Linked DNA regions of Homo sapiens: region 1 is linked to region 2. Evidence: fine-mapped expression QTL. A gene starts in region 2. The other region holds a variant in brackets. All regions are shown on one strand. Distances are from middle to middle. Region 1 overlaps VIPR2 (vasoactive intestinal peptide receptor 2). Region 2 holds the start of VIPR2 (vasoactive intestinal peptide receptor 2).

Region 1 (2,908 bases), 88 kb before region 2:
AGCAATTCCAAAGCTGTGTGGCCACTGCGCCAGGCTCACACACCAGTGCCGCTCCCTCTGGCTTCTCCTCAACACCCCTTCCTCAGAAGGCAAATGTCCCCCACCGGTGCCGTTTTGCTTCCCACTGATTCTCTCCTTGGCTGCATTCATCTCTCCAAATCACCTTTTTCCCTCTCTTATTTTTTCTCCTTCCCTCTCTCTTCCACCCCCTGTGTTTCTGTGGAGTGGGGTTGGCACTTACAGCCATTGCTCAGAGATGAGCATGCTTTTGGTCCAGTTAGCAAGCCATCCAAATACATGTTTGCTGGGTTTCTCAGTGATATTCTTCATTACTCACTGCTCGTTTTAAATTTTCACTTCCACGTATGGATCTGCCAATGGGCAATGGAGGTAGTAGAAAGTGTGGCTTCCGGAAAGGGGGACCAGAGTCTGCTCATTAGCAATGGTGGGAAAGGATTTTGGAGGCCACGTCCATCTGACAGTGACAGAGGTGCAGGCTGCAGTGATGAGAGCCTGGGTTGAAATCAGGGCTCTGCGTGCACCAGCTCAGCAACCCTGCAATGTCCAGCGACCTTCCTGGGGCTGCACTCTCCACCTGGAGAAACTGGGTCAGTGGCAGTACTTACCTGATGATGTTAACATCTGTAAAGTACTTGACACGGTGCATATTAGCAGTTACAGCTGTCCCTTGGTATCCACAGGGGATTGGGTCCAATCCCCCTCCCCCAATCTTGCCCCCCTTACCCCATGCCAAAGTCCATGAATGTGCAAGTCCCACATTTGCCCCTTCAGGACCCGTGGATATATGAAGCTGGTCCTCTGTATCTGCAGGCTTCTCATCCTGAGAATAGGCCATACTTCTGATCTGTGGTATCCATCAATACAGAGGGCTGACTGTATTGAAAAACATTCTCAGAGAAGTGGACCATGCAGTTCAAACCCGTGTTGTCTGAGGAGCAACCGTGCTGTGGACCCTGCTGGACTGGCATGGACTGGAACCGTCTCTGTCAGTCCCTGGGTCACAGGGGCAGCTGTCACCATAGGATGACTCCCCTACAAAGCTGGTCCTGTATTTGTTGTGAGCGTCAACACTGCACACTTTGGGATGTGTTCTAAGAAGTAAGTAGCTCCATTTCCCGTGTATAAAATAAGAACATGGCTACTGAAGGCTTTCTTGGCTTATTGGGCTATTTTGGAGAAGAAATGTTCAATGCCCGCAAAGCATTCTGCTTCCTGGGTATAATTACTGAGACAATGGAGCACGTTATTTTTATAATTCGGACTTTAGAATTGACAGACTCTCACAGCTCTCAGGAAGTGGCACTGGACCCTGCTTCTGACAGAAGGACGTGGGATGAGCCCCAAGCCTAGAGCTGCACACCAGCTCTGGACACTATGTGGTCACCAGCAGAATGACATCCAACACAGACATGCACTTTTTTCAGCTCAGAAGTGCCACAGGCAGGTGACGAATGATGCCTACAGATGGAGGGGTGTGTTCTGTGCCCTAAAGGATCAGTGTTCATAGGCGGGATAATTCCTGATGCTCTTGGGTTGCCTAATTAAATATGTCATGCTGTACATATGTGAAGGAAACAGATGTGTGTAAAAAATAGGGATTGTTCAATATAGGAAAATAAGATAAAATTTTCAGATTCAATTTCCCTGGGTCAGCTTACTTCCTTAAAGTTTTCCTCTTTCTCTTTAGCAACTTAAAAATTTAAACATATACAGTAAAATAGTAAACATATATAGTAAATTATACTCTATAAA[ATATAAG/A]TATAATAGAACAAATATTAATATTGTACCAGATTTTAAAAATAACTAGAATATGATAGGCCTTCCTCACTTTTCAAAGTGCAGCCCTGTATCAAAGGTAGACTTATTCTTTCTGAGAATTACCAACCATAGTTGAGATGCCTGAACAATAAAAAGCATAGCTCAATTACATTTGCTGGCTTTCTTAGCTGGATTCTCAACCACTCCTAACTTGTTTATTTTACACTTCCAAGTATGGATCTCCTAATGGACTGTTGTTAGGGTCTAGAAATATTCCATTTATCATTGATTTTTATCTGACATACTGGCAAACATTTCGATTACATTTTAGCAAAGAGAAATAAAATATGTAGTGATTGATACATAGAATAAGCTGAATAGCCTCCATTTTATTTAGTGCTAATGATACGTAAGACAGATTTAATCCTAATTCACCAGAGCTCTTCCTATAGAGAAACTGCCGTTCTGGGACCAAAACCTCTACCCCCAACCCAAATGAACAATGATTTGATTGGTCAAATCATCTGCACTATGTCATCATTAGTTACCAAGAGACCCACTAAAGATGCAGGTGTGCAGGGGCCATCTCACCTCACTGCCAGGGAAGAGTGGGCAGCATTTAATAAGCCCTCATCACAACCTCACGTGCCATGCTAAGCCCTTCACATCTACCGACACATCAAGTTCTCACAACAGCCCTCTGAAGGGGGCTTCTTAGTCTCCACACATTACAGAAGCACAGACAAGTTAAGTACTTTGTCCAAGGTCACACAGCTGCTAAGAGACTGACCCAGGATTTGAACCCAGACAGCCTGACTCCACCTTCATGCTCTTAAACACGTCGTAGCATCTCTCTAATAGAGCACCTACAGCCAAAACACAGGAGCTTCTGGATGGCAAGGGTGAGATCCTATTTTTTCTGTATTTTCCACGCATTTGCATAATGGCTAAGTATTTAATAAATGATAGCTGAGCTGAGTTCCTATCCAAGGTCAGCATTATCTCTTTACATAATAAATGCAGAGTATTTAAATAAAAATGTAAATGTTAACATCATATTTAATGGCAGCATTCTCCATGGGAGTCTTATTGGCTTAGCACACAGAGGGCTCCAGGCTGGGTGGCGCCT
Region 2 (2,908 bases):
GCGTACTATGGCCATCTATGTTTAGTTATCTTACTATTGAAATGGTCAATGAGAGTTCCAACCAGGAACACAATATCCTAACAGAATTAAGGGGAAAACAATGCTGGAACTTCTGCCACCTTCAGCCCCATTTAAAAGAGCCCCGAGCTTGCTTCTTGCTCGTGACTGAACCAGCACCAGGCACTGACTTTGGGCTCCAAGTCCTCTGTTTTCATGCAGGACAAGTAAGTGGCTTAAATTTCAGAATTAAGGAAATTATATTGATGTAAAAAGAAAAACTTTGTTAAAGTGTAAAAGACATTAATAATACCTGACGTTCCTGGAATATGCACAGCAATGACTTCTTTTAGGACATTTTAGCAATGAAAGCAGCATTAACCGTGATAAAACCCGTTACTTTCCAAGGACCCGCTCCGCAAAGCGCCCACCCTCGAGGGAGGAAAGCCGAGCTGCGCCTCCGCGCAAGGCCAGGGAGTGTGGCTCGAGCCCCGCTGCAGACCGGGCGTCGCCGGTTAATCAATGACACTGTCGGGTCAGCAGCGCAGCCTCCCAGCTGCGGAGGGGCCGCGGATCGATCCAGACCTGCCTCGGCTGCGACGCGCACGAAAACCGCGCGCACCGCAAACCCGCTTCAGTCTCCAAGAGGAAAGCAAGAAACAAGGCTCGGGTTTTTTTCTTTCTTTTTTCTTTCCTTTTTTTTTAAGGTTCACAGAGGGAATAATTCAGAACTCCATGTGCGAAGGCACTTAATCAACAAACTTATGAGCAGTTAGTTCCTCCAGTGCCCTTGGGAAAAAGCAACTATTTCCAAAAGGAAACTTTATTTAACCGACGCCACGTCCCCCCGACACTAAAACTAACCAGTAAGTACAGGGAGGGACCGAGAGGCATCTGCGGCCAACGCCAACCCCGATCTCCCCGTGAAACGCGCAGCCCGCGCAGGCGCCCGCAGCTCCCAGCTCCCGGGACGGCCCCGAACGAGCTCATCGTTGACGCGTCCAGGAAGAAACGATCCCGTTTCCAGCAAACCCCGGACGGTGGGGCGCGGGGAAGGGCGCAGGCAGCCTCCCAACCCGAGTCCCGCAACCCGGCGGGACCGGAGCTCAGCGCTTCACGCTCTCCGGGAGGAAGCTCCGGACCCCGGGCGACCCCGCTCCCTCTCCCGGACCCCGCCCGCGCTCCAGCACCCGGGAGGAAGGCGAAGACCGGCGGGAGGAGCGCTCTTCTCGGAAGGGGAGAACCGGGTCCGAGGCGCCGTGGGGCGGGGGTCGCGGGCGCACTCACGGGGGCGAGCAGCCAGCAGGTCAGCAGCGCGGGAGGCAGCAGCGTCCGCATCCCGAGCTCAGCGTGCCGGGGGCCGCCCAGCGCCCGCCGCCTCCGTCCTAGGTCCCCGCGGTTCCGCCGCCTCCAGCATGGGCCGGGAGCGAGTGCGCGGAGACCTCGGGCCCCGCAGCTGTAGCCGAGCGCCCGAGCGCGGGGGCCGCCCCCTCCGTCCCGGCAGCTGGAGCGCGCTCAATGCACGCCCGTCCCCCACGCGCCCCGCCGCTCCGCCCCCCGCCCCTGTCCCCGCCCCGCGCTGCCCCAATCCTCGTCTCCCTCCTCCCCCGAGAACCCCCGCTCCGCGCCCCTCCTCACCGCCCCCCACTTCCCCTTCCGCTGCGCCCCGCGCCCTCTCCTCGCCCCTGGGCTCTCTGTCCCCGCCGCGCGCGCTCCCTCTGGTCTCCTCGACCCCCCCAGCCTCTCTCTCCGTTCTCCTCCCCTCTTCCCTGGCCCACGCCCCCCTCCCGGCCGCGCCTCCCCGATCTGTGGGCGGAGGGGCTGGGAAGCGGGGTGCTCAGTGCGCGCCCGGCTCCGAGTAGAGAGAACTGGGGGAGAGCGGCCGGCGCGGGGCCGGGAGAGGAGGACCGGGCCAGGTGTGCGCTCGGAAGGGGCGGATGCCTTTGCGGCCGCCTGTACCTGCCTTTCTAAACAACTGCGGAAGCCCAAGAAAGCGGCCAGAGACCCGTCCGGGGTGGGCGCGCCGTCTTTGTAGCCAGTGGGGCTAGGTTGGGGCATCTGAAAATGGAGAAAATCAGAGTGCTTTTTGGTGGGGATCCCCGCAGCCTCAAAGAGGACATCAGGTCGAACAGAAAGCTGGAGAAAAACGCAGACGGGGGTATAGGTGGGTCCCAGCCTCAGCTGGGTGGCGGGTTTTGTGTCCTGCGTTTGCAAAACGGGGGTCATTCTCTCCCCGCAAACGCGGCGGCGGGTGGGGAACGCTGGGCGGGGACTCACGCGGTGCCACTGGGGCCGCCCCGCCGCGCCCCACGCGGGACTGCGCGGCCTCCCAAGGCGCCCGCGTGACCAACCCAGGAGAGCTCGGCGTTCCCCAGCAAGTGGAAAGCACTGGAATGAGAGATACAAGTTAAGTTCGTGTTGTTTTAATTTTTTATTTGGAAATAATTTCAAACTTACACAAAAATTAGAAGAATAAGAATATTACAAATAACTCCTTTTTATCCTTTTTGTGGATTCGGTCATTAACATTTACCTCATTGGGCTTATCATTTGCTTCTCTCTGATCCCCCACCCCCCGTATTCACAGATATCGATTTTTCTATCATCTGATGTTTATCATCCACATTATCTATCATCTACCTATCCATCATCTACGTATCATCTATCGATCTGTCATGTACCTATCATCTATCATCTTCCTATCGATCATCTATCTGTAATCTGTCATCTATTATCTGTCATCTATCATCTACCTGTCCATCATCTACCTTTCATCTATCCATCTGTCAGGTATCTATCATCATGCGCCTATCATCTATCATCCACCTTTCCTCTATCACCTACCTGTCATCTATTATCTATGATCTATCCATCTATTATGTACCTATCATCTATCATTTGCCTATCTTTC

What was found. PIP is the estimated chance that this variant, and not a neighbour inherited with it, causes the effect.
Region 1: its variant is the best candidate, but not a certain one, in a credible set for the expression of VIPR2 in whole blood (TOPMed, PIP 0.72).

The regions. Positions count from the first base shown.
Region 1 is chr7:159,055,506-159,058,413 of GRCh38, forward strand. The region is part of intron 5 of VIPR2 (vasoactive intestinal peptide receptor 2); the gene reads right to left. Among named protein-coding and RNA genes, the nearest start is that of LINC00689, 49 kb to the left of the region's middle. RefSeq lists an enhancer at 2,472-2,908. The variant ATATAAG/A (reference allele first, on the strand shown) is at 1,774.
Region 2 is chr7:159,143,437-159,146,344 of GRCh38, forward strand. It overlaps VIPR2 (vasoactive intestinal peptide receptor 2), which reads right to left and starts at 1,431. Exons shown (of 13, transcript NM_003382.5): 1 at 1,285-1,431. The coding sequence starts at 1,335.